Regions from separate parts of the Homo sapiens genome. Here all the other regions are linked to region 3. The links come from fine-mapping of genetic effects on gene expression. A gene starts in region 3. Each other region holds a variant in brackets. All regions are shown on one strand. Distances are between the middles of the regions.

The links.
Region 1: its variant is fine-mapped to the expression of RNFT2 in whole blood (TOPMed, PIP 0.96).
Region 2: its variant is fine-mapped to the expression of RNFT2 in cerebellar hemisphere (GTEx, PIP 0.98).

The regions. Positions count from the first base shown.
Region 1 is chr12:116,820,467-116,831,021 of GRCh38, reverse strand. The region is part of intron 7 of RNFT2 (ring finger protein, transmembrane 2); the gene reads right to left. Among named protein-coding and RNA genes, the nearest start is that of HRK, 56 kb to the left of the region's middle. The variant C/T (reference allele first, on the strand shown) is at 5,267.
Region 2 is chr12:116,842,861-116,853,415 of GRCh38, reverse strand. RNFT2 (ring finger protein, transmembrane 2) reads right to left here. Exons shown (of 11, transcript NM_001382266.1): 11 at 1-4,102. The coding sequence ends at 3,968. Among named protein-coding and RNA genes, the nearest start is that of HRK, 33 kb to the left of the region's middle. The variant G/A (reference allele first, on the strand shown) is at 4,109.
Region 3 is chr12:116,735,700-116,745,189 of GRCh38, reverse strand. It overlaps RNFT2 (ring finger protein, transmembrane 2), which reads right to left and starts at 6,875. Exons shown (of 11, transcript NM_001382266.1): 1 at 6,820-6,875; 2 at 4,669-4,845; 3 at 4,096-4,154. The coding sequence starts at 4,692. It overlaps SPRING1 (SREBF pathway regulator in golgi 1), which reads left to right and starts at 7,121. Exons shown (of 5, transcript NM_024738.4): 1 at 7,121-7,400. The coding sequence starts at 7,290. RefSeq lists enhancers at 6,593-6,852, 7,621-8,579 and silencers at 7,043-7,302, 7,383-7,432.

The sequences.
Region 1 (10,555 bases), 85 kb before region 3:
GAAGACCAAGGAGTGTGAGGTTGGAGAGAATTAAGGAGACGTGACAAATAATGTAACATGGGATCTTGGTTTCAATCCTATACTCTCTTTCTCTCTCTCTCTTTTTTTTTTTTTGAGACGGAGTCTTGCTCTTTCACCCAGGCAGGGTGGAGTGCAGTGGCACAATCTCAGCTCGCTGCAACCTCTGCCTCTTGGGTTCAAGCAATTCTCCTGTCTCAGGCTCTCAAGTAACTGGGATTACACACCACCATGCCCGGCTAATTTTTGTATTTTTAGTAGAGATGGGGTTTCACCATGTTGGCCAGGCTGGTCTCATATTCCTGACCACAGGTGATCCACCTACTTCACTTCAGCCTCCCAAAGTGCTAAAATTACAGGTGTGAGCGACCGCGCCCAGCCCTGATTCAATCCTATACTAGCAAAAAATGTCAATAGGCCAGGTGCAATGGCTGACACCTGTACTCCCAACACTTTGGGAGGCTAAGGTGGGAGGATCCCTTGAGCCCAGGAGTTCAAGACCAGCCTGGGCAATAGAGCAAGATCTTGTGTCTACAAAAAATTAAAAGATTATCTGGGAGTGGTGGTGAGTTCCTGTGGTCCCAGCTACTTGAGAGGCTGAGGTGGGAGAATTGCTTGAGCCCAGAAGTTCGAGGCTGCAGTGAGCTATGATTGTGCCACTGCACTCCAGCCTGGGTGACAGAGTAAGACCCTGTCTCGAAAACAAAAAAACAACAATAAAAATTGAAAAACAAAATAATGTCAATGGGGCAACTGGCAAAATGTGAATGAGGTCTTTAGGTTAGTAGTAACAGTATTGATGTTCATTTCCTGCCCTTGCTAATTGGACTCTGGTATATCAGATATCAACATTAGGGGAAGAGGAATGAAGGGTATATGGGAACTCGCAGCATTACTTTTGCAACTTTTCTTTAAGTCTAAAATTATCTCAAAATTAAAAGTTAAAAAAGAAATCATCCTGATGAAAGATATCATTTGACCCAAGCAAATGCTCATATTATTGTTCCAAATGGAAATAATAGAGAATGCAAAAAAAAAAAATCCTCATTCTCTTTGTGTTTTTATGCTCTCTCCAGATTTTTTATACTGAGCATGTGATATGTTTAAATTAGAGGGGAAATGAGTCTGGGCATGGTGGCTCACACCTGTAATCCCAGCACTTTGGGAGGCCAAGGTGGACAGATCTCTTGAGGCCAGGAGTTCAAGACCAGCCTGGCCAACATGGTGAAACCCTGTCTCTACCAAAAATACAAAAAAATAGCCGGGTATGGTGGCACGTGCCTATAATCCCAGCTACATGAGAATCACTTGAACCCAGGAGGTGGAGGTTGAAGTGAGCCAAGATTACATCGTATGCGTGGCATGTGGACAGAGATTTATAGCCAACTTTTATATTCCATCTTGATGGGCTGGGCACATGTCACTCAGAAGAGGATTCCTTGGAGCACGTACACCCACATCTACCAAGGACCAAGAAAGGGCATCCAATCATCACTCACCCCCTGCCTGATTTTTGTGACTAGTTCGCCACCTCCAGTTGTGAGGCCATTGTTTCCCAAAGGGCCCTCCTTTCCCCTCCTGACTCCCACCAGTCCCTGAGCCCCAGAAACATCCCCTGGAGGGAAATGCTGGTTTCCCTCTGGAACTTTTGGGAAGATGGGGGGTGACTGGAGTACAGAGATGTAGGGGGTGGCCGTCATGTTTGTTTTACATGGACAAGGGCATGATGGATGCTGGACCAATGGACAGCAACTTAGTGTATGGCCAGGGCTAACCAAGCCTGTCCATATCCTGCTGCAGACCCCAAGATCTGCAGAATATCCATGATTTGAACTTTCATTCCCTGAACCACCCACCCTCAGCTGCCCCATGCCTCCCTCATGTCTCCCAAATTGCTCTCACCCATGGTCTCTCAACTCTTGCATATTCCATCTTACCCTGGACTAAACTGTCCAACCTCTCTCAACTGCGAGTCTTGACCTGCAGTTTTTTTTTTTTCCACTTAAAACATTGTGTGTTTTAGAGATGGGGTCTATCTATGTTGCCCAGGCTGGTCTCCATCTCTTGGGCTCAAGTGATCCTCCTGCCAGCTTGGCTTCCTGAGTCCCCTGTAGGGACTACAGATGTGAGCCACCATGCCTGGCCTTAACCTGCTTTTGTCACTCTTCCCTACATTCAGTGCACCCCTAGATCACTCTTGTTTCCTTCCTTCCTTACCTTTCTTTCTTCCACCCATCTGTATTTCCTTTCTTCCTTCCCTCCCTTCCTGCCTTTTATCCATTGATGCTGCCTTCCTTCCCTTTCCTCTGCCCCTCCCTCCCTCTCTTCCTTGCCCACTCCCTTTCTTCTTCCCTCCCATCCTTGCTTCCATTTCTGGACACCTACTATGCACCAGACACAATGCCAGGTTCTGGAGGTACTAAGATAACTAAGACCTCATCCCTTCATCAGGAAGCTTGCTACCCAATGAGGAAGACCATCACTAAGCAAACTACTATAATACAGTGTGGTAGAACTCTGCTAGAGGTGAATGTGAGTGGGCCCCAGAATTGAGGCATGGGATGTGGAGGGGAAACTGATCAACAAAGTCTAAGAGAAGTTATCTTTCCAGCCACCCAAAGTGTGAGCCATGAACCAGCACCATCAGCATCGCCTGGGAGCTGGTTAGAAATGCAGGCTCTTAGGCCTCACCCCAGACCTCCTGAAATAGAATCTACAATTTAATAAGGTCCCCAGGTGACCCGAGTGCACATCCAAGTTTGAGAAGCACTACTTTAATGGATGAATAAGAGCCAAGCTGGTGAAGAAATGAGGGCAGGTAAGGGAGGAAGGGTGTTCCAGAGCCAAGAGGTGAAGGAAAAGATGGTCACTGGTCTGAGCGCCATCTTGGTGGGCAGCCTCCTGCTTCGTCTGCCTGGTCTCATGACAGGTAAGGACACGGCTACCCCATGAAACGTCCCTGTGTCTCTGGGAGCCCCTGCCTGCTGGCATCTGGCTGACTCTGGTCCCCTCTCTCTGTTCTTCCTTGCAGGCCAGTCTCAACAACCAGTCTGGCTTGGTGGTCAAGAGCACAGCCCCAGGAACCAAAGAGGCTGGGATCAGACCTAGGATTGTCACTTGCCACCTTAGGTTTAGTTTTGGTCACTGTCTTTGGATCTTCCAATTCTCAGGCCCCTGAGCTGCAGGCTGGTTTCTGGGCCAAATCCCAAACTTCCCACTTGCTATTGGGCAGCTCTAGAACAAGTGTTGGCAAACTTTTTCTACAAATAACCAGGTAGTGAGTACTTAGCCTTTGCAGGCCATACGGTCTGTGGCACCACTACTCACCTCTGTCACTACAGTAGGAAAATAGCTGTGGACAATAGGTAAGTGAATGGGTGTGGCTGTGTTCCAATAAAACTTTATTTATAAAAACAAGTGGCAGGACGTATTTGGCCTGTAGCCTGTAGTTTTCTGACCTGTGGTCTGTTCTATCAGAATCTAGATAAGTCACGATGGGGATTCTAACACATCCCCAGGATTTCCCAGAAGGCTCTAATACCAGCTTCTTTCCCTGTCTTTCGGTTGCTTAAGGACACCAAGCTCTTCCTTTGCAGATGGAATAGTGGTCCCTCTACTCTTTGCTGAGCTAACATCTATTCATCTTTTGGGTCTCAGCTAACTGTCACCGCCTATGAAAAGCCTTCCCTGACTTTTTAATTGAATCAGGTGCTCCTGTTATGTACACCTTTGAAGACTCCCCTAAATCACTCCTTTCTTTCTTTCTTTCTTTTTTTTTTTTTTTGAGATGGAGTCTCACCCTGTTGCCTAGGCTGGAGTGCAGTGGCATGATCTCGGCTCACTGCAGCCTCCGCCTCCTGGATTCAAACGATTCTCCTGCCTCAGCCTCCTGAGTAGCTGGGATTACAGGCACCTGCTGCCAGACCCAGCTAATTTTTTGTATTTTAGTAGAGACAGGGTTTCACCATGTTGCCCAGGCTGGTCTCGAACTCCTGAGTCAGGTGATCCACCCGCCTCGGCCTCCCAAAGTGCTGTTTACAGGTATGATTCACCACACCCAGCCCCTAAATCACTCCTTCAAAGCATTTTTCACAATATTAAAAAATTATTTTTACTATCCATCCCTCCCACTGGACTGTAAGCCCCTTACGGGAGAAGATAATTTGACTCTGGGTATATTCCCAGCATCTAGCATGTAGTAGGTGCTCATGTAACAAAGGAGGACCTCTTGAAGCTGAAGATTCCATCCTTATTACTCAAGTCAACTTCCTACAGTTTGCTGATGGAGGAGAGTTGAAACGCTGAAGAGAGAATATCTCTTTATAAGCAAGCACTGATGTCACAGCAAATAAATTTAGGAGAGTGAGAGCCTATGTGGCACCCCGTTAAAGGTAGCAATTAGCTGCCGGGGGTGGGCCACTTTGAAAAGGAGATCAAACCACCAAGGAAAACTGGGCATATCCCAGCAAAACCATCTCTCCCTAATTAAGCAGTTTTATAATTCCAGGTTTCTTAAGCATGTTATTTCTGACGACCACCAAATGGGATGTGTGGTTTCTCTGGGGCTTCAGAGAACAAGGAATACGATCAGATTATGAGCTGTCTCGCCTCCCTGCCACCGTGAAGGGGAAACGGTAGCAATTGTTGCAGGACGTGCTTGGGCATGGACGGTTCTCTGCTTGGATTCAGATAAAGGGGGTGGGAGTGTCAAGTTGGGAAGGCGGATTCTATTCCGACTTCCTCACTGCCAAGATGAGGGGTGGGACAATAAGAGAAATGGGAAACATCGAAACAACAGAGGGCTGGCTCCAGAAGCGGGTGGGAAATGAAGGAGAGTAGGATGCTGAGAAGCAGAAGAAATGAACAGAGAGGAGAATTTTTTGGAAGAACGCACCTACATGGGAAAGATGATTTGAAGACTTGTGGGGGTGGGGAGGAAGGGAGGAGAGGCATAATCAAGTATCTGTCAGCAGCTTCAATGTATGAAAAATGCACAGACAGAGATGAAACCTTTTTTTTTCTGTATCAAGATGAATAATATTTATACAGCTTTGCCTGTTTACGAATCTCTTTTATACACATTTTTTCATCTGTGGAGGCAGGACAGCCTAGTGGTTTAAAGGCGTGGGATTTGGGATTCTAAGGTCACATCTATCACCTATTAAATTGGTTGATTTGGCACAATAATTCAACCTCTATGACCCTCAGTTTCTTCATCTGTAAATGGGGTTGAATACACACATACATA[C/T]ACACATACATATAGATATGCATGCAGTGCTGTGCTGGAAAACTAGGTCTCTGGGGGAAAGAAAAGGCCCTGATTTGTGTGTTTGCCAATTTCTGTGGTATAAATGTTCCCACAAGGCCAGCTTCAAGCTACCAATGATTTAACAACTGTTTGCAAATTTCATGAAAATGTAACCATTGGCTCTCACATGTCAGTAAAACCTGTATTCAACACACCAAGGTGATCTTATGGATTAAATAAGCCAATAAATCTAAAACACAGGTACATAAGAAGGGCCCAGTACATGATACAGCTAGTACTGGCCCTCATGATAATCCAGAAATGTGGCCATTATGTTACTGCTGCCTTATTTTAGAGATGAGAAAATGCAGGTTCAAATGAACTAAGGTGAACTAGAATTAAGGCAAAAGTGATATCTGGGACTTCCAAGCCTAGGCCTTAAGAGATCAGACAGCTTTCACTTCCTTCCTTTTGCTTGTTCTCCCTCCTCCAGCCACCATGTTTGTGGGAAGCCCAAGCTATAAGGAGAGTCCCAGTGAAGAGGACATGTGGAAGGGGAGCAGCTCTGAGACTAATTGGAGGAGAAACATGAAAACCAGCCAACGGTGAGAACTGAGGCCCCAGATACAGGACCTTAAGAAGGCCATTCCTGCCATTGCAGCTGACGCATCAGACCTGGGAGTGAAGATGCCATCTTGGACAGTCCAGCCCCAGCAGATATCATGGGGAGGAGAGACAAGCTGTACCCGGTGTGTCCTGACTGAACTCCTGACCTGCAAAATTGTGAGAATTAAATGGTTTTTTCAAGTCAACAACAACAACAACAAAAACTAAAGTACCATCTAAGGCTACTCAGCTGGTGCTATAGACTGAACTGTGCCCACCTCAAGTTCCTTTGTTGAAGCCCTAATCCCTAATGTCATGGTATTTAAAGATAAGGCCTCTGAAAGGTAATTAGATCATGAGAGTAGAGCTCTCATGATGGGATTGGTTCCCTTATAGGAAGAGACATGAGAGATCTCTCTGCCACTTGAGGACACAGTGAGAAGACAACCTTCTGCAAGCCAGGAAGAGGGTCTTCACCATGAACACAATTATAAGCATCATGTAGAAACTTCAGAGAAGCTTTCACCTTATTCTTCCCCACTTTCTCTATCCTACTGTCTGGAACTTGGATGTGATGGCTGGTGCTCTTGCTACCATCTTGGACCATGAGGGGGAATCCCACACCCTAGAGCTGGTGAAGCAGTGGGCTGGAAGGTGTCATACTCCCAGGCTCGGGCTGCTTATCTTTGGCCTTTACATGAGAAAGAGATACATTTTTTAAATTTAAGTCTTATTATTTTGGATTCTTTGCTGTTACTATTTGATTCCAATCCTAACTAATAGAAAGCGTTTGGGACTCAGTAGGTGACCAAGAAATATTTGCTGAATGAGTAATGGACAAATGAGGGGGCAAAGTAAATGGCCTTGTGCTTTGAAACAGCTGGGTTTCCCATAGGCATGGCTCATAGAGAGCTCTAATGCTGAAGATACTAGGAATGGGAGTCTATACATAACAAATGTTCTAGAAAATGATGAGGGTAGGAGTGAGACGGGGAGGGTTGGCCAGTGACTGCCATGTTGGGCACAGAAATACCATGGGAAAGACCTGGGAAAGAAACGTGGCCCTGGGTGCAGATCCTAGCTCTGCCTCTTCAGAGATGAGGCCCTGGATTCTGAGCAAGCACAATGGCAAAGAGCATGGACTTGGGAGTCAGATGACCTGAATTTGAATTCTGATTCTGTCTCTTCCTGAGTTACCTGGGGCAAGTCACTTCATCCTTTTGTGCCTCAGTTTCCTCGCTAGTAAAATGGGGCTAATGGTAGCCCCTGGCTCCTAGGGTTGTTGGGAGGATGAATGAGCAAATGTGTGTAAAGCATTGAGTTCAGTGCCTGGCGCATGGTAAGTGCTCAATAAATGTTAGCTGCAGCACTGTTAGCAGCCTGGAAATATGAAAAAATAAATTAAGTCTGGTCAAAGAGGATGGCAGTGGACCAGGAAAGCAGAAGAATTATTATTATTATTTTTTTTAGACAGAGTCTTGCTGTTTACCCAGGCTGGAGTGCAGTGGTGCAATTTCGGCTCACTGCAACCACCGCCTTCCGGGTTCAAGCAATTCTCCTGCCTCAGCCACCAGAGTAGCTGGGATTATAGGTATGCGCCACGGCGCCCAGCTCATTTTCATATTTTTAGTAGAGACAGGGTTTTGCCACATTGGCCAGGCTGGTCTCAAACTCCTGACCTCAAGCGATCCACACACTTCGGCCTCCTAAAGTGCTGGGATTACAGGTGTGAGCTACCACGCTTGGCCTGATTTTTATATGTCACCATTTATAACATGAAAACAGGGTTAAAGTGTGGCATTTGAAGTCAGGTAGCTAGGTGCGCATCCTCTGTATCTGTGTGACTTTGGGCAAGCTGCTCTCCCTCTCTGGGCCTCAGTGTTCTGTGTGATGGGGGTGTTGACCCAGCTCCGCCATTCTGGGCCTCTATGCACTGTTAAAACAACTACTGGTGTCACTTTAGGCTATAAGTGACAGCTAACATGAAGTAGCTTCCACAAAGAAGGAAATGTATTAGGTCACAAAACTGGGAAGGCAGGGGTGGCTCTGGCTTCAAGGATTCCTGGATCCAGGAGGTCAAACAATATAGTCAAAGAGCCTTCTCTAGTTCTCTAGTTGTATTTTTCCTTTTGTCTTTTCGTTTTTTGCTTTTTGAGACAGAGTCTCGCACTATCGCCCAACCTGGAGTGCAGTGGCTCAATCTTGGCTCACTGCAATCTCTGCCTCCTGGGTTCAAGTGATTCTCGTGCCTCAGCCTCCCAAGTAGCTGGGATTATAGGCGTGCACCACCATGGCTGGCTAATTTTTCTATTTTTAGTAGAGATGGGGTTTCACCATGTTGGCCAGGCTGGTCTCGAACTCCTCAGGTGATCTGCCCGCCTCAGCCTCCCAAAGTGCTGGGATTACAGGTGTGAGCCACTGCACCCAGCCAGTTCTCTTTCTATCTCTCCTCTTCTTCCCCATCTCTCAGCTCAGATGTCTCTGTTTCTTGTGTGTAAGTTTCATTCTCTCCTGCCAAGGTTGGACTCACTGCAGGTGGTAGTAGTGGTGGTGATGATGATGATGGTGACTTAGCTGTTAACTATGTGCTAGGCACCACTCTGTGCACACCACTATGAGGCAGGTGCTATTAATACTCTCACTTTACAGATAAGGAAATGGAGGCACAGAAAAGTTAGATAACCTGCCCCAGGTGACGCAGCTGGAAAATGCTGGATCTGACAGTATCTAGTAGGAAAGATGGCCACTGGCAGCCCCAAGCCAACACTCTTACAGCTGGAATTGCCACAGAGAGAGAGAGAGACAGAGAGAGAGACAGACCCTGTTTCTCCTGGGGCCATTTGCCAAAATGATGGCCCTGCTTCCCTCTGGGAACCAAGCTCTGAGGCCAAGAGGTCATGGGGTTCTATGATTGGTCAGTCCTGGTCACAACCATGGGGGCAGCACTGTGACTGACGGTGTCATCAGAACTAAGGGGACAGAGAGGAGGGCTGGTTCCTCTGGTTGAAGGAGGTTGGCCAGGCAGGGTGGCTCACACCTGTAACTCCAGCACTTTGGGAGGCCGAGGCACACAGATCACCTGAGGTCAGGAGTTCAAGATCAGCCTGGCCAACACGGTGAAATCCCGTCTCTACCAAAAATACAAAAAATTAGCTGGTGTAGAGGTGCACACCTGTAATCTCAGCTACTCTGGAGGCTGAGGCAGGAGAATGGCTTGAACCCGGGAGGCAGAGGCTGCAGTGGGCTGAGGTTGCGCCACTGCACTCCATGCACTCCATGCACTCCAGCCTGGGCGACAGAGTAAGACTCTGCCTCAAAAAAAAAAAAAAAAAAAAAAAAAAAAAAAAGAAACAAGTAGTCAGAAAAAGGAGGATAGCTTCAAGGACTAAAGCTAGCAAGCTAGCACAGGGCCAGGAATCTGCATTTCAAAGCCCTCCTTCCACATGTGGAAAAATAAGCAGGAGGGACTGCTTCCAGCCTCCTGGGCCAGAGGGGGCCCTCAGCCTCCTGCGAGACTTTTCCTTGCTTGCTTTTCTTCCCTGGATGGACTGCCTGTTGGCTCCCAAAAGCCCCAGGGTATGGGGGCCACAAGTCCTGCTCCCAAGTGGGCGGCCAGGACAAGGAACTGAAAACAAAGACATGTTGTCCTGGGAAGGTGGCCTGCGGGCCTGTTAGGATGGTGGGGTTGTGGGGACCACAGCTGGCAGAGTCCTGCAGACCCAGCACCGACCTGGAGGCTTGAAGGGCTGGGCTAATGAGCTGAGGCCCGTGCTGGGTCTCCTCCAGTGCTGGGGGTGGGATCGGGGCTGGACCACTGACTTCACAGCAGCGCCCGGCCAGGAGGGGTGGGAGAAACAAGTGTGACGGGGCAGGACTGGGGATAGAAGCAAGGCTAGAGAAGAGCACAGGAAGGAAGGAGGGAAGTGGATAGAAACAGGAGGGGGAAATGGGGCTGGGGGCAGAAGAAAGGAAGAGAGAAATGGCAGAGTTAGAGGCCAGAAGAGAAAGAACACCCAGGAGGCAGAGTCCAGGTGAGAAGGCAACAGGGGAAGAGTAACCCCCGTATTAAGCGCTTACCAGGGGCCAGGAACGGCACACCAATTGCTCCTCTTGTAGGTAGTTATGACGCGTTCCCATTTCTTAGATGAGAAAGCTCAAACACAGAGGCAGGGGAGGGAAGAACAGAGTGGGAGACCCAGCAAGTGAGAGGATTACAAGAGGAAAGAGAGAAGGACTAGGGCTGGCTTCTAGTTTAGTGATGAGTTTCTCGGTTGAACACTTAGTACCTGCAGGCTGTCCCCAGACTCTGACAATCCCAGGAGATGGACACTGAAATTATTTGCCCCTGTTAACTGGTGAGGAGAGAGAGGCTCAAAGAGGCAGGGTATGTTGTTCGAAGTTGCTAGACAGTGGTGGAGCCGGGATTTAAATCCAGCCTGATTTTCCAGAGTGGCTTTGTGCCACTCTGAGAAACAGAGAAAGGGAGACCCTAGGAGACCTTAGGAGATAAAGTAAGATGTGGGAGAAAGAGAAAGAAAAGATACAAGCTATGGGGGTAGAGAGGGAAGGATAACTGAAGGATGATAAAATTCAGAATAATGGGTACCCCTGGTGGGGGAAGTGAGGACACAGGAACTTTCCAGATGCCGGAAATGTTCCATATCCACCACAGCCAATCCAGTA
Region 2 (10,555 bases), 110 kb before region 3:
TGTGTCCAAAGCTTGCCTTTCTTATTCCCTCACATTTATTATTCTCAAGATATTTTACATGAAGAGGTCCATTTCTAAGGACTTCGTGGAACTTGAGTCAGTGAATCATAAAATAATAAGGGCAGGATACTGTGAACCTGATACTCGATTAACCCTACTTACAACAAATGAGTTGCAGAACCAAGATACATAAAAGAGAGTGGCATTGTTCTTTTCCAACGGGGACTCCTGGCTGCTTTCGCACTGGTATAGGGGAATTCATGTAGCCTGTGTTGGAAACACTCCTCATCAGACACTGTTTTCCCTAGGACAGAAGTTAAATCCCCCCACCGAGAAGAAAACCTCAGATGGGACGTTCCCCCAGAGGGTAGGGCATGCACTAATAAAATCCTAAACTAAACCATCCCATCTGCCCCTGTGTGTCCCCCACATGTTACATTCTTTACAGTGTTAACAGGCATGGCTCACTCTTTGCAGTGTTAGAGAATTTTGTTTTATTGTTTTGGTGGCATGGGCATAATTGGAGAAACCATTGGGGTATTCACTAGTAACCTACATTGTTAGTTTCCTTGGTTCCAGCAGGTAATACACTGGGTTCCGTCACCCTGGAGATGGCTACAGGGAGGCTGAGTGACTTCCCAAAGTAATAAAGAGTTTGGAATCAGAATTCCAGGTCTGACTCCCAGCAGACTGTTCTATTTCCTTACACACCTGCACTTTCATCAATCTTCTCCAGCTCCAATTTCTTGTGCCCCTTCAACAGCATCTGCAGGCAGGATGATCTTTCCGATAAAAACCAGTTGCAGAAGTTCCTGTTGCTTCCCTTTGGTTTTTCCTCAGGGTAGGGAGAACAGAGCAGCTGCATTCACATGGCCCCATTTCCCTCTGCTTCCCCTTCCCACTTGATTATTCAGGCAAGTGGGATTGTAACATCATGGCCATCGCCATAGTAACGGAGCTTGAAAGATGCTACACTGCCCTGGAACAGACGTCTTGCTGGGTACCAGGAGAGAGCCAGGGATGCCAAGCCAAGGGGAAAGTCCTGGTTTGGTGGCACACAGGGGCAAATGTCCTGAATCTACGGCGGGGCAGGGGGAAGGGGACATGTTAATACTGGCTGACAGCGAGGTGGCTACAAAGCTCCTCCATTTCTCCTGGGGCTTGCATGGTAATCTGCCCACTAGCCACACAGATTGCTTTCTCTGTAATGCCATTGGCGCCAGCCTGTTGTGCTGAGGTTGACAATAAGAGAACAGACTTGGGAGGAGGAATAGGGCAGGCAAGATTCTGGTGGCTTCTGCGTGGTCACCTGTGCCATCTCATGCCAGATTTCAGAGCAGGGAACATTTCAGAGGTGGAGAAGTGGCTCTGTCATAGAGATCACAGAAGCACAGATGGTTACGGTGCTCCATGCCACTACCCTGGTTGGTGGAAACATCCATAACATAGGTTGTCCTGTTTGCTCTGAAGGCTACCAGAGGGGATGGCAATGTCCACAGGAGCTGCTGACAGGCCTGAGACTTAAGTGAGGGAGATGACAGAATAGGAAGAGGAGAAAGACATAAAGACAGGAGACCAAGGGGTAACCACATCTGGGCCAAAGCTGACCTTTCTTTCTTTCCTTCCTTCCTTCCTTCCTCCCTCCCTCCCTTCTTTCTTTCTTTTTTTTTTTAGACAGAGTCTCACTCACTCTGTCACCCAGGTTGGAGTGCTGTGGTGCAATCTCGGCTCACTGCAACTTTCACCTCCCGAGTTCAAGCAGTTCTCCCTGCCTTAGCCTCCTGAGTAGCTGGGATTACAGGCACCCGCCACCGCGCCCGGCTAATTTTTGTATTTTTTAGTAAAGAGGGGGTTTTGCCATGTTGGCCAGGCTAGTCTTGAACTCTTGACCTCAGGTGACCCGCCTGCTTCAGCCTCCCAAAATGCTGGCACTACAGGCATGGGCCACCACACCCGGCCTCTCGTGTGCTTTTAGAAGACCGTGTCTGCTGGGCCCCATGCCTGGAATGTCTGAGGGGCAGAGCAGTGCGGAGGTTAAGAGTGCGGGCTCTGCTGGGGATAGCGGAGTGTGCCTGTAGTTGCAGCTGCTTGGGAGGCTGAGGAGGGAGGATCACTTGAGCCCAGGAGTTTGAATCTAGCCTGGACAACCTGGATTTTTATTAGAAACCTCATCTCTAATAAATTTATTTTTTTTTAGATGTGGGTTCTGAAACTGTACCAGGCCTCTGTTGGAAACTTGGCCCGCCCATGCTGGCTGGGTGACCCTGGGAAAGTTACCGCACCAAGCTCTGTGCCCAAGTTTCCTCATCTATAAAACAGGGGACCCAACAGTACCTCCCCCATCACAGGGCTGTTGTGAGGATGACAGCACGTAATCCAAGCAGGATGCTGCATGCTTTGCCTGCTGCGCATGAAGTATTTGGGACCTTAAGTCATTACAGGTATATGGTGGGGCCCAACAACTGTATTTTGAAAATACTTTGGGCCAGGTGTGGTGGCTCATGCCTGTAATCCCAGCACTCTGGGAGGCTGAGGCAGGTGGATCACTTGAGGTCAGGAGTTTGAGGCCAGCCTGGCCAACGTGGTGAAACCCCATCTCTACTAAAAATACAAAAAAAAAATTAGCTGGGCATGGTGGCACGCATCTGTTGTCCCAACTACTCGGGAGGCTGAGGCAGGAGAATCACTTGAACCCGGGAGGCGGAGGTTGCAGTGAGCCAAGATCGTGCTATTGCACTCCAGCCTGGGCAACAGAGCAAGACTCTGTCTCACAACAACAAAAAAAAAAAAAAAAAGAAAAGAAAAGAAAAAATACTTCACAGGGCTCACAGGGATTCTAATCTGCAGGCCTGGGCTATCTGGGAGGCAGTGATCTCTAGGCTCCTCCCCAGCCTGCACCATCAAGTCCTAGGTACTAGGTACTAAGTTAAAATAACCAGCAGGTGGGCTGGGCACAGGGGCTCATACCTGTAATTCCAGCACTCAGCACTTTGCGAGGCCAGGACAGGAGGATTGCTTGAGCCCAGGAGTTTGAGAACACCCTGGACAACATAATAAGTCCTCGCCTCTACTAAAAATTAAAAAAAAAAAAAAATTAGCCAGGCCTGGTGGCACACACCTGTAGTCCCAGCTACTTGGGAGGCTGAGGCGGGAGGATGGCTTGGGCCCAGGAGTTCAAGGTTGCAGTGAGCTGTGATTGTGCCAACTGCACTCCAGCCTGGGTGAAGACCCAGACCCTGTCTCAAAAAAAAAAAAAAAAAAAAAAAAGTGAGCCTGGGCACGGTGGCTCATGCCTGTAATCCCAGCACTTCGTGAGGCTGAGGCGAGCTGATCATTTGAGGTCAAGAGTTGGAGACCAGCCTGGCCAACATGGCAAAACCCTGTCTCTACTAAAAAATACAAAAATTAGCCAAGTGTGTTGGTGGGTGCCTGTAATCCCAGCTACTCGGGAGGCTGAGGCAGGAGAATCGCTTGAACCCAGGAGGTGGAGGTTGCAGCGAGCCGAGATTGTGCCACTGCACTCCAGCCTGGGTGATAGAGCGAGACCTTGTTTTAAAAAAAAAAAAAAAAGGAAGGAAGGAAGGAAGGAGGGAGGGAGGGAAACAGAGAGAGAGAGAAAGAAAAGAAAAGAAAAAAGAAAGAGAAAATAACCAACAAGTGGGAACTTCATGTATTGCCAGGTCCTTGACTTGGAGTGGAGAAGGAAGATGCATCTAGAAGGGCATCAAGTCTGAGTTAGGAAGACGTCCCCTTTTGCAGGGGAAGGAGGCACGCACTATACCACAGAACGAGAGAGGAAGATGAAGGTCAGAAGGACAAGACAGGGGCGGGACTTTGGGGTCAGAGGTGGTGGAGGGCAAGAGGCAGGATGTAAGTGCTTGAGGCCTGTTTCTCAGGAAGCCCCCGCAGGGCTGGGTCCGGGCATGCTGACCCTTGGCGTCCTTCTGGGTGTCCTCAGTGTTCGGTCCTAGTACACCTGGAAGTGTGCGGACGTGGCGCCGTCCTTCCAGCAGCGCAGGGTGTCCACGGCGACCGAGCGGCAGAGCGGGCAGGTGCGCTCACGGTCCAGCCACAGGCAGAGGCACTCCTCACAGAACACGTGCTGCGG[G/A]GACAGCAATCAGCAGGCACCAGGACTCTTTACTGAGCGTCTGCCTCGGTCTCGGGAGCAGGAGAAGGGGCAGCGGACTAGACAGACAACCCCTGCCTTCGGGGCGCCTGCACTCGCGTTGGGGAGACAATGCGACTCCAAAATACTGAGTTATCAGTAGGAAGCACCAAGATGAAACAGCAGGGGAGGGGACAGGTGTGGTGGCTCAGGACTGTAATCCCAGCACTTTGGGAGGCCGAGATGGGCGGATCACCTGAGGCAGGAGTTTGAGACCACCCTGGCCAACATGGTGAAAACCAGTCTCTACTAAAAAATACAAAAATTAGCCGGGCGTGGTGGTGGGCGCCTGTAGTCCCAGCTACTCGGGAGGCTGAGGCAAGAGAATCGTTTGAACCCGGAGGCAGAGGTTGCAGTGAGCTGAGTTTGTGCCACTGCACTCCAGCCTAGGTGACAGAGCAAGAATCTGTCTAAAAACAAAAAAACAAAAAACAAACAAACAAAAAGCAGGAGGGAGAAGGAACAGGGAGGGCTTGGGCGGGTTGGGACGTTAAGGACAACTTTACGGAGATACTGACATTTGGGTAAAACTTGCAGGACAGTGAGGAGTGAGCCCTGATGAGATCTTGGGGAAAAGCACTTCTAGCAGCAACAGCAATGTGCAAAGGCCCTGAGGCTGGACTGTGTTTGATGTGCGGGAGGAACAGGAAGGAGAGGATAGCTGGGCTGGGGTTGTTGGGGTGGATGGGAGAGGGAGATGAGGTCACAGAAGTGATGGAGGGTGAGGGGTGCATATGGTGTAGGTACTTGTGGGCCATTGTGAGGTCTTTGGCTCTTATTCTGAGAGAAGTAAGGGGCCCATGGTAGGGCTTGGAGCAGAGGAGTGACCTGATATGATTTGCAGTTTAAAGCGATCCCTCCGCCTTCTAGGTTGAGAATAGAACACAAGGGTCAAGAGGAAAGGCAGGTAACTAGTGCTACGATAAACAGATACATGCACGCATACGTTCACTGCAGCACTATTCACAATAGCAAAGACATGGAATCAACCCAAATGCTTATCAATGATAGACTGGATAGAGAAAATGTGGTACATATACACCATGGAATACTATGCAGCCATAAAAAGGAACGAGATCATGTCCTTTGCAGGGACATGGGTGGAGCTGGAAGCCATTATCCTCAGCAAACTAACACAGGAACAGAAAACCAAACACCACATGTTCTCACTCATAAATCAGAGCTGAACAATGAGAACACATGGATACAGGGAGGGGAACAACATACTGGGGCCTGTTGCGGGGGCTGGGGGAGGGAGAACATCAGGATAAATTGCTAATGCATGTGGGGCTTAATACCTAGGTGATGGGTTGATAGGTGCAGCAAACCACCATGGCACACGTTTACCTATGTAACAAACCTGTATATCCTGCACATGCATCCTGGAACTTAAAATTAAATTAAATTTTTTAAAAAAGAGAGAGGGCCAGGCGCGGTGGCTCACACCTGTAATCCCAGCAGTTTGGGAGGCTGAGGTGGGCGGATCACCCGAGGTCAGGAGTTTGAGACCAGCCTGACCAACATGGAGAAACCCCATCTCTACTAAAAATACAAAATTAGCCAGGCGTGGTGGTACATGCCTGTAATCCCAGCTACTCGGGAAGCTGAGGCAGGAGAATCACTTGAACCCTGGAGGCAGAGGTTGCGGTGAGCTGAGATCGTGCCATTGTGTTCCAGCCTGGGCAACGAGAGCAAAACTCTGCCTCAAAAAAAAAAAAGAGAGAGAGAGAGAAAGGCAGGGAGATTGGAAAGACCAATGGGTTCCACCGTTCTCTGGCTGTATAACTTGGACAAGTAATGCAACCTGTCTGTGCCTCAGTTCCCCCATCTGTAAAATGGGGATAGAACCCCCTCATTGGAAGATTAATTAACATGTTAAAAGTACTTAGCTATGACAACCAAATGCAGCACATGAGTCTTGATTGGTCCCAGGGGTGGCAAAAAAAATGCCAGCTATAAAGGGCACTTTGAAGGCAACTGGAGACATCTGAATATGTACCATATATTAAATAATATGTCACATTAATTTAAAATTTCCTGGGTGGCCAGGCACAGTGGCTTACACCTGTAATGCTAGCACTTTGGTAGGCTGAGGCGGGGGGATCACTGAGGTCAGGAGTTTCAGACCAGCCTGGCCAACATGGTGAAATCCCGTCTCTACTAAAAATACAAAAATTAGCCAGGCATGGTGGCACACGCCTATAGTCCCAGCTACTTGGAAGGCTAAGGCAGGAGAATCGTTTGAACCCAGGGGGCAGAGGTTGCAGTGAGCCAAGATCGCGCCACTGCACTCCAGCCTGGGCAACAGAGTGAGCTAGATTCCATCTCAAAAAAAAAAAAAAAAAAAAATCCTGGGCATGCTAGTGGAATTGTGATTATCTGAGAGTATGTCCTTGTTCCTGGGAGATGCACACTGAAGTATTTAGGGATGAAGAATCTAAATGTCTACCACTTACTCTTAACTGGTTTAGGGAAAAAAAAATTGATGTCAAAAAAAGGGCAAATGTAAAATGTTAATGATCAGTAAATCTGGATGAAGAATAGAAGAGTTTCATGCAACTTTCCTGCAGGTTTGAAATTTTTCAAAATGAAACATTTGAGGAAATAATAATAAAAAAATCTAAACAAAATGTTTTTTTAAAAGCAAAACCACAAAAAAGAAACTGGGCACAGTGGCTCATGCCTATAACCCCAGCACTTTGGGAGGCGAAGGCAGGAGGATGGCTCGAGGCCAGGAGTTTGAGACCAGCCTGGGCAACATGGCGAGACTTCCTCCACCCCCATGCCCCATATGTCTCTACAAAAAAAAAAAATTAGCTGGGCATGGTGGCATGTGCCGTCCCAGCTACTTGGGAGGCTGAAGTGGTGGGAGGATTGCTTGAGCCCAGGAGGTTGAGGCTGTATGAGCTATGATCATGCCACTTCACTCCAGCCTGGGAGACAGAGTGAGACCTTGTCTAAAAAAATAACAATAATATAAAAAAGAAGGCACTTGGAATAATGACTGGCAAATAGTAAGTGCTCTATAACTATTAGCTATTATGATAGTAATAATGATTATTATCTTATGTGTTTACAGTTTATTATCTGTCTCTCCATACCAGGCTGTAAGCTTCTTGTAAACCCCTTCATTCCTAGCATGGTGTACAGTGGGTGCCTAATTGTAGACAGTGCTCTGAAGGAGATTTCCATGGTATTATGGAGGTGTGTGACAGAGGGACCAGTTTGATCCAAGGGGTAGTCAAGGAAGGTTTCCTGGAGGTGGGGACACTTGAGTCGAAGCCTGAAGAACATTTGGCAGTTAACTGGGCAGAAGAGAGGGGATGGGATAGAGATAGAACATTCCAGGCTGAAGGAAGTCTCCTGTGCAAAGCTCCTGAGATAGGAAGATGTTTGAGGCACTTGAAGATAGCTGATGTGGCTGTAGTTGGGGGTGCAGGGGAGAGAGGGATTGGGGAAAGGAGAGAAGTCCACACAGAGCCGCGAAGACCATACTGGATTCTCATCATGGTCTGGAGGGCAGGACCCAGGGGTCAGCAAGCCCTGCAGCTTCTACAGATTCCCACTATGGCACCCATTACCCTCTATGATGGCCCGTCTCCCGTCCAGCCCCATCCTCACACCCTGGAGTAACTGATGTCATTGACGTGCCACATGACCTTCAACCCATGGCTTATTCACAGCCTTCCAACCAACTTTAGTATCACTCTGGGATGCCCTTTCTCCATCTTGACCAGCTGGGTGCATGCCCAGTTCTTTTGGAAGACTCAGCCAAGCAATCATGTCTCCCCTGTTTTATGATGTTGCCCCGATTCCATCCTGTTACTGTCTCCTGCAAATGTAAGTACTGATCGCGTCTTCTCTCCTATGCCATTCTTCCTGGTGAAAACCCCTCTCAAAGCATTGCATGAGGAATTATTTGCAAATTCATCTGATTGTTCACTAGATTAAGAGCTCTCTCTCTCTCTCTCTCTCTATATATATATATATATTTTTTTTTTTTTTTTGAAACCGGGTCTTGCTCTGTCATCCAGGCTTGAGTGCAGTGGTGCGATCACAGCTCACAGCAGCCTTGATCTCCTGGGCTTGAGTGACCCTCCTGCTTCAATCTCCCAAGTAGCTACAACTATAGGCACGTGCCACCATGCCTGGCTAATTTTTTAATTTTTTTGTGGAAATGGAGTCTCACTTTGTTGCCCAGGCTGGTCTCAAACTCCTGGCTTCATGTGATCCTCCCACCTTGGCCTCTCAAAGTGCTGGGATTATAGGTGTGAGCCACCATGCCCAGCCACTGGATTGAGAGCTTTCTGAGGGCAGAACCTGGTTTTATGCTGAGTACGGTTCTTGCTCAGATGCTCAGTAAATATCTATTGACCAACCAAATGGGACTTAACTATGCTACCCTGGACAAAAGAGGTACTTACATAGGAGAATGCAACACAACCCCTGTTCACATAGACTTGGTTAAGTGAATGGGAAATAGCCATGAAATTTAGCAGTTTTTTCACTCATTCATTCAACACATTCACTGAGGCTCTCACACTTCTAATTTAATAGTTCTCAGATATTCTGGTGCTAAGACCCCTTTATATTTTTTAAAAACACTGAAGACCTCAAAGAGCTTTTGTCTATGTGGTTTAAATTTGTCTATATTTACAAATTTAGAAATATTAGAAATATTTAGAAATAGAAACGGAGACATATTTAAAACATAATGGCCAGGCACGGTAGCTCACGCCTGTAATCCCAACACTTTGGGAGGCCAAGGTGGGCAGATCACGAGGTCAGGAGTTGAAGACCAGCCTGGCCAACATGGCGAAAGCCTGTCTCCACTAAAAATACACAAATCAGCTGGGCATGGTGGCGTGTGCCTGTAATCCCAGCTACTCGGGAGGCTGAGGCAGGAGAATTGCTTGAACCGTGACCTGGGAGGTGGAGGTTGCAGTGAGCTAAGATCGTGCCACTACATTCCAGCCTGGGCTACAGGGTGAGACTCTGTCTGAAAAACAAAATGAAACAAAACAAAAAAAAAACCCATAATACACAAGCACATATTCATGAGCCACCAGAGTGATGACCTCCTCGCAGGCGATGCAGCCTCTGGAAAACTCCACTGTATACTCATGAAAGAACCAGAGTGAAAAGGCCAATAATGTCTTAGTATTATTATATAAATGGTTTTGACCTCACAGACCCCCTGAAAGGAACCCCCAGGGGTACCCTGGCCACACTTTGGGAACCACTGTTCTAAATGCTTAGTCAACATCTGCCCTGCCCTCTAGGTGGTAAACGCCATGAGGGCAGCCATGTTGTTATCGTACTCCTACTGTCCAGCCCTGAGCTGGTACAGAGTAGGGGCTCTGTCAATGGAGAGGACAAATGAATGGGAATGCAGATGACAAATGACCAAACAGGAAAGTCTGGCGATACTAGGGTGATGAAGGACTGGTCCCTGCCCTCCGGGAGCTCACAATCCCTTCCTCAGAGAAATGGGAGGACAGAATCTGGTGTCAAATGAAAAGGTTCAAAAAACCAGGTTTACCCCAGGGCCCAGCTGAGGAGTTCACGGCTGTGGACTGCCTCCAGCATGTGGAGAAAGGGATGAACGTCTACAGAGGAAGGGGGAGGAAGAAGGAGCCCTTTCTCAGCTGGGAAGGATAGGATCGGGTGGATTGATGGGCAGTGGGGAAGGCAGGTGGCCCTGGATTGTTTTTTTGTTTGTTTGTTTCTTGGGGTTTTTTTTTTTTTTTTTTTTTTTGAGACACAGTCACACTCTATCACCTGGGCTGGAGTGCAGTGGTGTGATTAAGGCTCACTGCAGCCTCGACCTTTTGGGGCTCGAGTGATCCTCCCACCTCAGCCTCCTGAGTAGCTCGACTACAGGCAGGCACCATGGCACCCAGCTAATTTTTGTATTTTTTGTAGAGTTGGGGTCTTGCTATGTTGGCCAGGCTGGTCTCAAACTCCTGGGCTCAAGGGATCCAATCGCCTCAGCCTCCCAAAATGCTGGGATTACAGGTGCAAGCCACTGTGCCCAGCTGGCCTTGGATTGTTAACTGCCCCCTGGTCGTGCCTCCCGAAGCACAGAATTGGGGTTAAACCAGTCACCTCACCCTCACCCCAAATTCTATCCAGGTCTTGCCCAAAGATCCAGAGCAGGCAGGTGGGGCTTGGGACAAGAGCCTACAATCACAAGAGCCAGCCCCAATGTGAGAGAAGAGGCTTTGAGTGGGAGAGGGGCATTTCTGGACCTAGCACTTGGTGTTCAGCGTGAGCCGAGAAAGCAGGAAGCAGCCAGGCCTGGGTCCAGGTGGATGAATGCAGGTGAGGAGGAGAACAGGCAGTTATGAGCCACTACCCCTTATAAAGTATAAACACGCCGGGCACAGT
Region 3 (9,490 bases):
AAAAAAAAAAAAAAAATCTGGTGCAATGGAGGAAACTCACGATTGGATTCCCTCCCTCACCAAGCCCCACCCCTGCTGGCTCCAAAAGCCCAGGAAATATGCGCTCCTCCTCCACTGGGCTCTGGATAATAATAATGATAATATTAATAATGACAACAACAGCAAACACCATGGCTATGATCCTCAAGGGGCCTTGAGCTTTTTCTGCACTTCAAAGAGCTCAGCTCAGAAAGCAAGAGCCCTGGCAGGTACCCATGTTGGTCCATGAGGAGGCCACTCTCTCTCCGTGGCCACCCAAGGGGCCCTAGAAAGCCATCCTGTCCCCCTTGAGCTTGCCAGCACTCTGAGTTCACTGGGCTCAGGGGCCTCCAGTACAACCAGGGAAGACTCAACTCACCAAGGGGCTTTTTATAGCTGGCCTCCCTTCCCTGGGCCTCTCCCCTGCATCCAGCCGAGATTTCAGCCTGACTGGGAAAGAATATTCCTTAGGGGGACAGAGGCTGTGCTTCCAACTTAACCACTTAAGCGCCAGAGCTTGAGGCAACCCAGGAGGAAAAGTGGTTCTGCTCAGACACTAGGCAGCCAAAATGTGCTATCTCAAAGCACAGGTGCTGGGGGACACAGGGATGGGGGCCCAAATCTCAGCCCTGCTACTTCCTGGCTGTGTGACTTTAGGTAATTTCCTTCCCCTCTCTGAGCCTCAGCTTCTGCATTTGTAAAATGGGTGCTCTCACTGGGCTAATGTGGCGGTTGGCACAGCATAAGCACTCAATACACGGTTTGAGTTTCCTGCTGTGCTCTCTGCCCGCAAGAGATCTCATGGTTCACTTGAGAGCAGATGACAATGTTGTCTTTAGAGGCGGAAAAGGTTCCAACAGGCAGGCTTATTACAAGCCGGATGCTGTTTCTGCATCTTCACACTCACTCCTTCATCCATAAACAACTCTTTTTTTTTTTTTTTTTTGAGGAGGAGTCTCACTCTGTCACCCAGGCTAGAGTGCAGTCGCATGATCTCTGCTCGTTGCAGCCTCCACCTCCAGGGTTCAAGTGGTTCTCCTTCCTCAGCCTCCTGGGTAGCTGGGACTACAGGCATCTGCCACCACACTGGCTAATTTTTGTATTTTTAGTAGAGATGGGGTTTCAGCATGTTGGCCAGGCTGGTCTCAAACTCCTGATCTCAGGTGATCAGCCTGCCTTACCCCCGCAAAGTGCTGGGATTACAGGCATAAGCCACCATGCCTGGCCCATAAGCAACTCTTGAGTTCTGTTACCTGCCATTTTTGGATGGAGAAGCTGAGACCTAGGGGTGAAGTCATGTATCAAAGTCACCACAGGTGGGAAGTGGCTGAGCTGGGGTTTGGCTGAGCCCCGTGTTCTTCCCTGCAGAACAGGCAGGCACCATACAAAACTCAGTCCCAGTGCTGGGACCGGGGGATACCATTTGTGATTCTGTAGCCAACCCCAGAGTCGCAGGGGGTATGGGATGTGAGGAAGGGAAGGCTTGGCTGCCCGCCCCTTGGATGTATGTGCTAGGACAGGGCTTCTGGGGCTGGAGGCTGTCCCAATCTGAGAACAGGCCCCCAGGTGTGTTCCCTCTTGGGTTTCAATAGATATAAATTCTAGGCTGGGTGCAGTGGCTCATGCCTGTAATCCCAGCCCCTTGGGAGGCTGAGGTGGGCAGACTGCCCAAGCTCAGGAGTTCGAGACCAGCCTAGCCAACATGGTGAAACCCCATCTCTACTAAAATACAAAAAAATTAGCCAAACGTGGTGGTGCGTGCCTATGGTCCCAACTACTCGGGAGACAGAGGCATGAGAGTAGCTTGAACCCAGGAGGCGGAAGTTGTAGTGAGCTGAGATTGTACTACTGCACTCCAGCCTTGGTGACAGAGCAAGACTCCATCTCAAAAAAAAAAAATTCTAGCTCATGAGTGTTTTTTAACCGGTTTTTTTTTTTTTTTTTTTTTTTTTTTTTTTAGATTCTACCTGGTATCTATTAATCACAGGGCCAAACTAACGGCCAAAGTTATTTACATGTCCTTGTGATCCAGAGCCCATAACCCCAACCACTGCTTCATTTAACCTTTTTTTTTTTTTTTTTTTTTTTTTTGAGATAGGGTCTCACTCTGTTGCCCAGGCTGGAATGCAGTGGTGCAATCATAGCTCACTGCAACCTCCACCTCCTGGGCTCAAGCAATCCTCCCACCTCTGCCTCCTGCATAACTAGGACCACAGATGCATGCCACCATGCTGGGTAAGTTTTTATTTTTTGTAGAGATAGGGTCTCCCTATTTTGCCCAGGCTGATCTCAAACTTCTGGGCTCAAGCAATCCTCTCACCTTGGCTTCCCAAAGTGCTGAGACTATAGGTATGCACCACCATACGTGGCTAGTTTTAAAGTTTTTTAGTAGAGACAGGATCTCCTCATGTCACCTAGGCTGGTCTCCAACTAACTCCTGGACTCAGGTTATCCTCCCACCTTGGTCTCCCAAAGTGTTGGGATTACAGGCGTGAGTCACTGCATGGCCCTTCCTTCATCTAAGTTTTACACACGCAGCCAATATTTCTCCTGTCCTAAATCATCTAGGGCCAGACACCAAACTAAAGAGCACCTTGAGGCCAGGCGTGGTGGCTTGCGCTTATAATCCCAGCGAGCAGGAGCTTGGGCGGCCAAGTCGGACAGATCGCTTGAGCCCGGGAGTTTGAGACTAGCCTGGGAAACATAACAAAACCCTGTCCCTACAAATACAAAAATTAGCCGGGCATGGTGGTGCATGCCTTTAGTCCCAGCTACTCGGAAGGCTGAGAGGTAGGAGGATTGCTTGAGCCTGAGAGGTCGAGGCTGCAGTGAGCCGAGATCGTGCCACTGCATTCTAGCCTGGGCAACAGAGGGAGATCCTATCTCAAAAAAAAAAAAAAAAAAAAGAAACCACCTCGGTACCCCAGAGCCCACCAACATGATTCAAACTAGCCAGTCCTAAACTATTGCCCCTGCCTTGCCTTTCTTTCCCCCAGAAAACACAATAAAGGCTGTGGCCTATGCTTTTTCCTCGGTCCTTTCTGCCCTCTGACTATTGCTGGTGCTTCCCCAGGTGGCCCTGCAAGCAGTAGTATGCCCCTTCATCTTGAGAAATGGAAGAAATAAAAATCTCATCTTTCAATGTCATTAGCCTCTCCGTGTTGTTTCTCAGAGCTATGATCTCAATGTTTGTGTAGATTCTTATGTTGAAACCTAACCCATGCCAGGTGCAGTGGTTCACACCTATAATCCCAGGGCTTTGAGAGATCAAGGTAGGAAGATCGCTTGAGCCCAGGAGTTTGAGGCCAGTCTGGACAACTTAGTGAGACCCCGTCTCTACCAAAAAATTTTAAAAATTAGCTAGGTATGGTGGCACATGCCTGTAGTCCCAGCTACTCAGGAGGCTGAGGCAGGAGGATTGCTTGAGCCTAGGATTTGGAGGCTATAGTGAGCCATGATCACCACTGCACTCCAGCCTGGGTAACAGAGCAAGACTCTCTCTCAAAAAAGAAACCTAACCTGTAATTTGATCGTATTGGAAGGTGGGCCTTTGGGAATGATTAGGTGATGAGATGGGCTCTTCACGAATGGGATTAGTGCCCTTAAAAAGGAGACCCAGAGAGATCCCTTTCCCTTCACCACATTAAGACATAGCAAAAGAATGGCCATCAGTGAACCAGAAAGTGGGCCTTTCGCAGACACTGAATATGCTGGAGCTTTCATCTTGGACTTCCTAGCTTCCAGCACTGTGAGAGATAAACATTTGTTGTTTAAACCACCCATTCTATGATATTTTTGTGATAGCAGCCTGTATGGACTAAGACATCTCTATAAATCAAAATTCCACAGGTACATTCATTGATACAATGAGTCAGGTGGCTCACCTATCACACAGGACTTTGAAATTTAGCATAAAAGAAAGAGCAAGCTATTATGCGTTGAATGTTTAGTATGAGGCCATCAGTGTGACTCTAACAACTAACGCTGAGGGTGAGGTATTGTTCAATCCAGTTTTGGGTTGCCCCTCACCACCCGAAGCCTAGAGCCCTCAGATGGAACAGAAGCAGGGATGCCTACCTTTCAGGTGGAATGTTATCCGTGTTGCTGCTGTGGCGTCTCTGCATCTTCCTTAACACCTAAAACCCAACACATGGGTGAGCCAGAGTCTCCCAACACTCCCACTGCCTGTCAGATTGCCAAGGTAATTGTAAACTGCAAACCTGCACTAGTCGTATCTTAGACCCCTAGTGCTCTCTGGCATTTTCCAAAGTATGTTTCAATCTTTCATGCCATTCCATCCTCAATGTGACATTCTATCCCATGAGGAAAGCTATCACCCCATTTCACAGAGGAGGACGATGAGACTCAGAGGTGGAGAAAGTCCTCATGTGAGAGGATAACGCGGTAAACTGTGCAGCCAAGAGGTGCTGGATGAAGTGAAGTGGGCAGCGGACTGGCAGGAGACATGGATTCTGGGTTGATGCTGCTGCTAACTTGCTGTGACCCTAGACAAATCAGTAACCCCTCTGTGGGTTCAGATTCCCCATGTGTTACATGGGAGGGGTGGAGTGGTCAAACCAAAACTTCCTTCCAGCTCTCACATTTAATCAAGTAGTAATAAAGATGCAAATTCTCTTGGAGACGTGTCACCTGATTCACTGTGAAGAGCCACATGGACTTCAGAACTCCATGTTGACGACACTGGAGGTAGGCATTCGGGAATCCTCAGGGGGATGTGACCAATGGATCCCAGAGAGGACAGGCCTCCCCCTCCTCTTCGTCTCCAGAGGGATGCACAGTCAGGGGAGCTTGCCAGAGACTCCAAACCTGGATGGAACAGAACACCTGGATGAACAGTCCCTGCGATACCTTGAATCTGCTAAGAAGCCTTAGGACATTGTTGGTAGCTATAAGCAGATGATTCCATCTGCTCAGTATCTCTGGGTAGCCTCTCAGTGATCCCCCCTTGAAACTCCTTTTTTTTTTTTAAGACGGAGTGGTGCGATCTTGGCTCACTGCAACCTCTGCCTCCCAGGTTCAAGCGATTCTCCTGCCTCAGCCTCCTGAGTGGCTGAAATTACAGGCTTACAGGCATGCGACACCACGCCCACCCAATTTTTGTATTTTTAGTAGAGATGGGATTTCACCATATTGGCCAGGCTGGTCTCAAACTTCTGACCTCAAGTGATCCGCCTGCCTTGGCCTCCCAAAGTGCTGGGATTACAGGCATAAGCCACCATGCCCGGCCCTCTTTGAAACTCTTAAGGTATTGTATTTCATCCTATTGTCAAACTAAGAGTCCTGATTGGGGAAGCCAGAAAATATGTTTTAAACCCTCCAACGGCTGCCCAGTGCAATCAGAATCAAACCCGAGCTCTGTCCATAGCCTACGGGTTCTTCCTGATGTAGCATCATCTGTTTCCAACTGCATTTCCTCCCATTCTCCCTTTTCCCACTCCTGTCCACCCACAGTGGCCCTTCTGTTCCTCTAATGTGTCAGCGTGTCCCTGCCTCAGGGCCTTTGCACTTGCTGTGCCCTCCCCTTGGAATACTTTCTCCTCTAAATGTGGCAGGGCTTGGTCCCGCAGGGCAAATGTCGTCTCTTCCCAGAGGCCTTCTCTTCTCATTCTCCTGACTCCCCGTAATATTGCCCTGTTTTATATTATTCATAGCACTTATTTGTTCATGTTTGCTTATTTATTTATGATTTGTCCTCCCCATTAGAATATAAATGCCATTCCTGAAAGTAGGGATCCTGTCTACTTGGATCACCCCTCTGCCTCAGCATCCAGGACACTGTTTGGCACAGAGTGGCGCTCAACAAGTATTTACTCAATGAATAAAACATCTATGGGTCTCCCAGTTCCCCTTTTCTAGATCCCTTGCTCCCTGTCCCACCTTTCACCCTAGCAAGGTAATAAGGGCCATCTACTTCCCATGAAAAGGTTTAGCCTCCGTGAATATCTTCTTGTCTCTGGAGGCAGAGCCAATATTGTGGATATAGGGTGTCTATATCAGTCAGATGGTGTCTGACTTCAGTTTAGGGCACGATTATTGGCTGTTGAATGACTTCCTAATCCTGACCAGGCTTCTTGAGGGGGCAGCAATGGTGTCACTAGGGCCACTGATTAAAAATGACCCGCCAGTGAAGCCTCCTTTCTCTTTTGAAAAATTAGGTAACAAACCGGTCAGCAGCAGCATCTTCATATATCAAGAAAAGGTCATTATATAAATATTTTTCAAGAATTTGCAATCTCAACTTAATCCTCCTCTCGCCCCTCCCTCCATTATCCCACATTGCAAATCCTTGGGGGAAAATAAAATTCATATTCCAAAGTTCTCATCCACACATTTAACTCCTAAATCGAATGCTCGAAACTCTACTTTCGGATGCTTGTATTGGAAGAGGCTTCGGATTCTTTGTCGGAAGCAGGCCGTACATAATTCTGGAATAAATTTTTGCACGCGGGATGCATCTGAATGAATGAAACGCTTTTTAATCCTCTGCTCTGTACATCCCACTATGTCCCTTTGAAGGACCGCACCGAGACTTTTCGATGCTTGCGATGGTTCAAGTTGCGCCCCTGGGGCCCGTTACAGGACTGCACCGAAATGCACTCAGAGGAGCATCGCCTGCATCACTTGGACTGGAAGCCGGCAGGTGCACTTCGGGAACAACGTCGCGAGCGCTTTTCATCCCTGCAACCAACACACAGCGCAAAACGCTCTGGGACTGCAAGGGCAGGAGACTACACAGACCATGATGGGAGAAAAGAAAAAAAAATCGCGTTCTCTTTTTACCTGCCCAGACAATTCAGCAATCACAGCCGCATCATTCAGGTCCAGCCAAGCCAATCACCCGCGCAGCCTGGGCAGCATGTGACTTCCGATGCTTCCGGCCTCCTATTGGGTGGTTTCTTGGCGTCGCCGGGTCCGGCGCTAGGACCCGGGCACAGCTACGCCCGCAGCACTCACGCGATTGTCCGCCCCCTTTCCCGGCACTTAACCAATAGGAGGCCGCCGTTCCTTAGGGACCAATGGTGAGAAGATCTTGCGCGACTAGCCCTTGTCGCTGCGGAGCGGAGGCGGGGCGTAGGGCGGGGTCACGTGGGGCTGCGCCCAAGGCTGCCGGGAGCAGACTGGGCTGCGGGCGGCGGGGCCGGCGCCTGCCTGGAGGGATGGGGCTGCCGGGCGCGTAGGGGCCATGCCGCCCGGGACCCGGGCCTGCCGCGTTCCGCGCCCCGGCCGCCGCGCCCCACGTCCGCGCCGGGATGGTGAACCTGGCGGCCATGGTGTGGCGCCGGCTTCTGCGGAAGAGGTGGGTGCTCGCCCTGGTCTTCGGGCTGTCGCTCGTCTACTTCCTCAGCAGCACCTTCAAGCAGGTCAGTGGCCGCCCTTCCCCTCCTCCCCTTCCCTTCTTCCTTCCTTCCTCCCCCTTACTTTACTTTCTCCTTCCTTCCTTCGTTACCTTCCTCCTTTTTTCCTTCCTCCCTGTCTTCCTACCCCTTCCCTTCCTTTCTTTCTCCCCTTCCCTTCCTTCCTCCTTCCTTCCCTTCTTCCTACCTCCCCTCCTTCCTTATCTTCCTCCTTCCTTCCCCTCTCCCTGCCTCCCTTCCTTCCTTACCTTCCTCACCTTCCTCCTCCTTCCTTCCTCCCCCTTTCCTTCCTCCCCCTTCCCTTTCTTCTTTCCTCCCCTTTTTCCTCTCCCTTCCCTTCCGTCTTTCTTCCTTCCCTTCCTCCTTCCGTCCTCCTCCTTTCTGTCCCCCTCTCCCTTCCTTCTTCCTTTACTCCCTTTCTTCCCTGACATCCTCTTTCCTCACTTCGTTCTTCCTCCTTCCTTCCCTTCCTCCTCTTTTTCCTTACTCCTCGCGTTTGTCCGACCTCCCGACTTCTGCAGCGGCGCCGCCGGGGCGTCCGAGGGTGGGGAGAGGTGCGCATTCCTGTCCCGGTCTCAGCACGGGTGAGGGACCTGCCCACCGCCTTGGTCCCTGCAGCGGGAAGGGGTTGCTAGGCCAGGGCAGAGCTGGGACTAGAACCCCGAGTTGAGGACCCTTCAGCGGTGGGGACTGCTTTTATGAACACCTCCCTGCTTTTCACCTGCCCGGTCCAGAGCTAAGAGAGGGCGTGCATTTGCTGGCTTCATCTTCGCAGCAGGCCTGGGAGAAGTGGGGTTCCCAGTATTACAGTGGGGGAAACCAAGACATAGGTGGCGAGGGTCGGCCAGCCCTCGCATGGGTGCCCTTCGTTTAATTTGGGGGCTCTGTGTCCTCCTGGGTGACTCAAAAGGACCCACAGTTCCTTTTATGCTTTTTGTGCATAACTTGATTGGTAGAATTCCACCCCTCCAACACACTGCACCCTTTCATTTTTCTTCCATGTGAGAATTTCTGGGAGAAACAGCAAGGAGCACGGGTGGGGAAATCTTACCCAAAGCATTAATAAGTTTGTCTAGAAGTCCAGGTTGAGTGCTTAGTTGTGTAGAAAGGGTGGTTACACCCCAGGGTGCACCCAGGATAATGGGTTATGCTGTTGTCCTGACATGGTTATAAAAAGCTCTCCTTTTTACTCTCAAAGCTCAAGTGTGTAAATAAAATATATAAGTGAATAGAACATTGATAAAACTATGTGGTCACTCTACATTTAGTGGATTGGCAGGGGAGCTGTGAAAAGGGAAGAATAGGGAATTGTACGTGACCTGCCACCTTAGGCAAACAGAGAGGCTGAGTGTTGTAAGTCCCTTTTATTGGCCGGGATGTCTGGGCAATCATGTGACTACCAGACTTCTGTGACTTGTGTTTTCTGCCACCTCAGACACCTCCTCACAGTCGCGTGTTGTCCCTTCTCTGTCTTGTGACCCCTGAGTGGTGGGGTGCGCCAGGACTCCGTCCTCTGCCTTCCTCTCTATCTGACTCAGGTAATCTCTGGGCCATTGTTTAAATACTCAGGTGATCTCTGGAGGTATGCTGTTGATGCCAGTAGTTGATAACAACAGCCTAGATCTGTCCAGAAATCCCCAAATTCTTATATCCAATTGCCTAGTTGATATCTTTTTTTTTTTTCAATTTTTTTTTATTGTGGTAAAATACGACATAAAATTTCCCATCTTTTTTTTTTTTTTTTTTTTTTTTTTTTAAAGACTGAGTTTTGCTCTTGCCCAGGCTGGAGTGCAGTGGGACGACCTCAACTCACCACAGCCTCCACCTCCCGGGTTCAAATGATTCTCCTGCCTCAGCCTTCTTGAGTAGCTGGGATTACAGGCATGCGCCACCATGCCCAGCTAATTTTGTATTTTTAGTAGAAACGGGGTTTCTCCATGTTGGTCATGGCTGGTCTTGAACTCCCGACCTCAGGTGATCCACCCACCTCAGCCTCCCAAAGTGCTGGGATTACAGGTGTGAGCCACCACGCCTGGCCAGAATTTCCCATCTTAACCTTTTTTAACATGGAGTCTCACTCTGTTACCCAGGCTGGA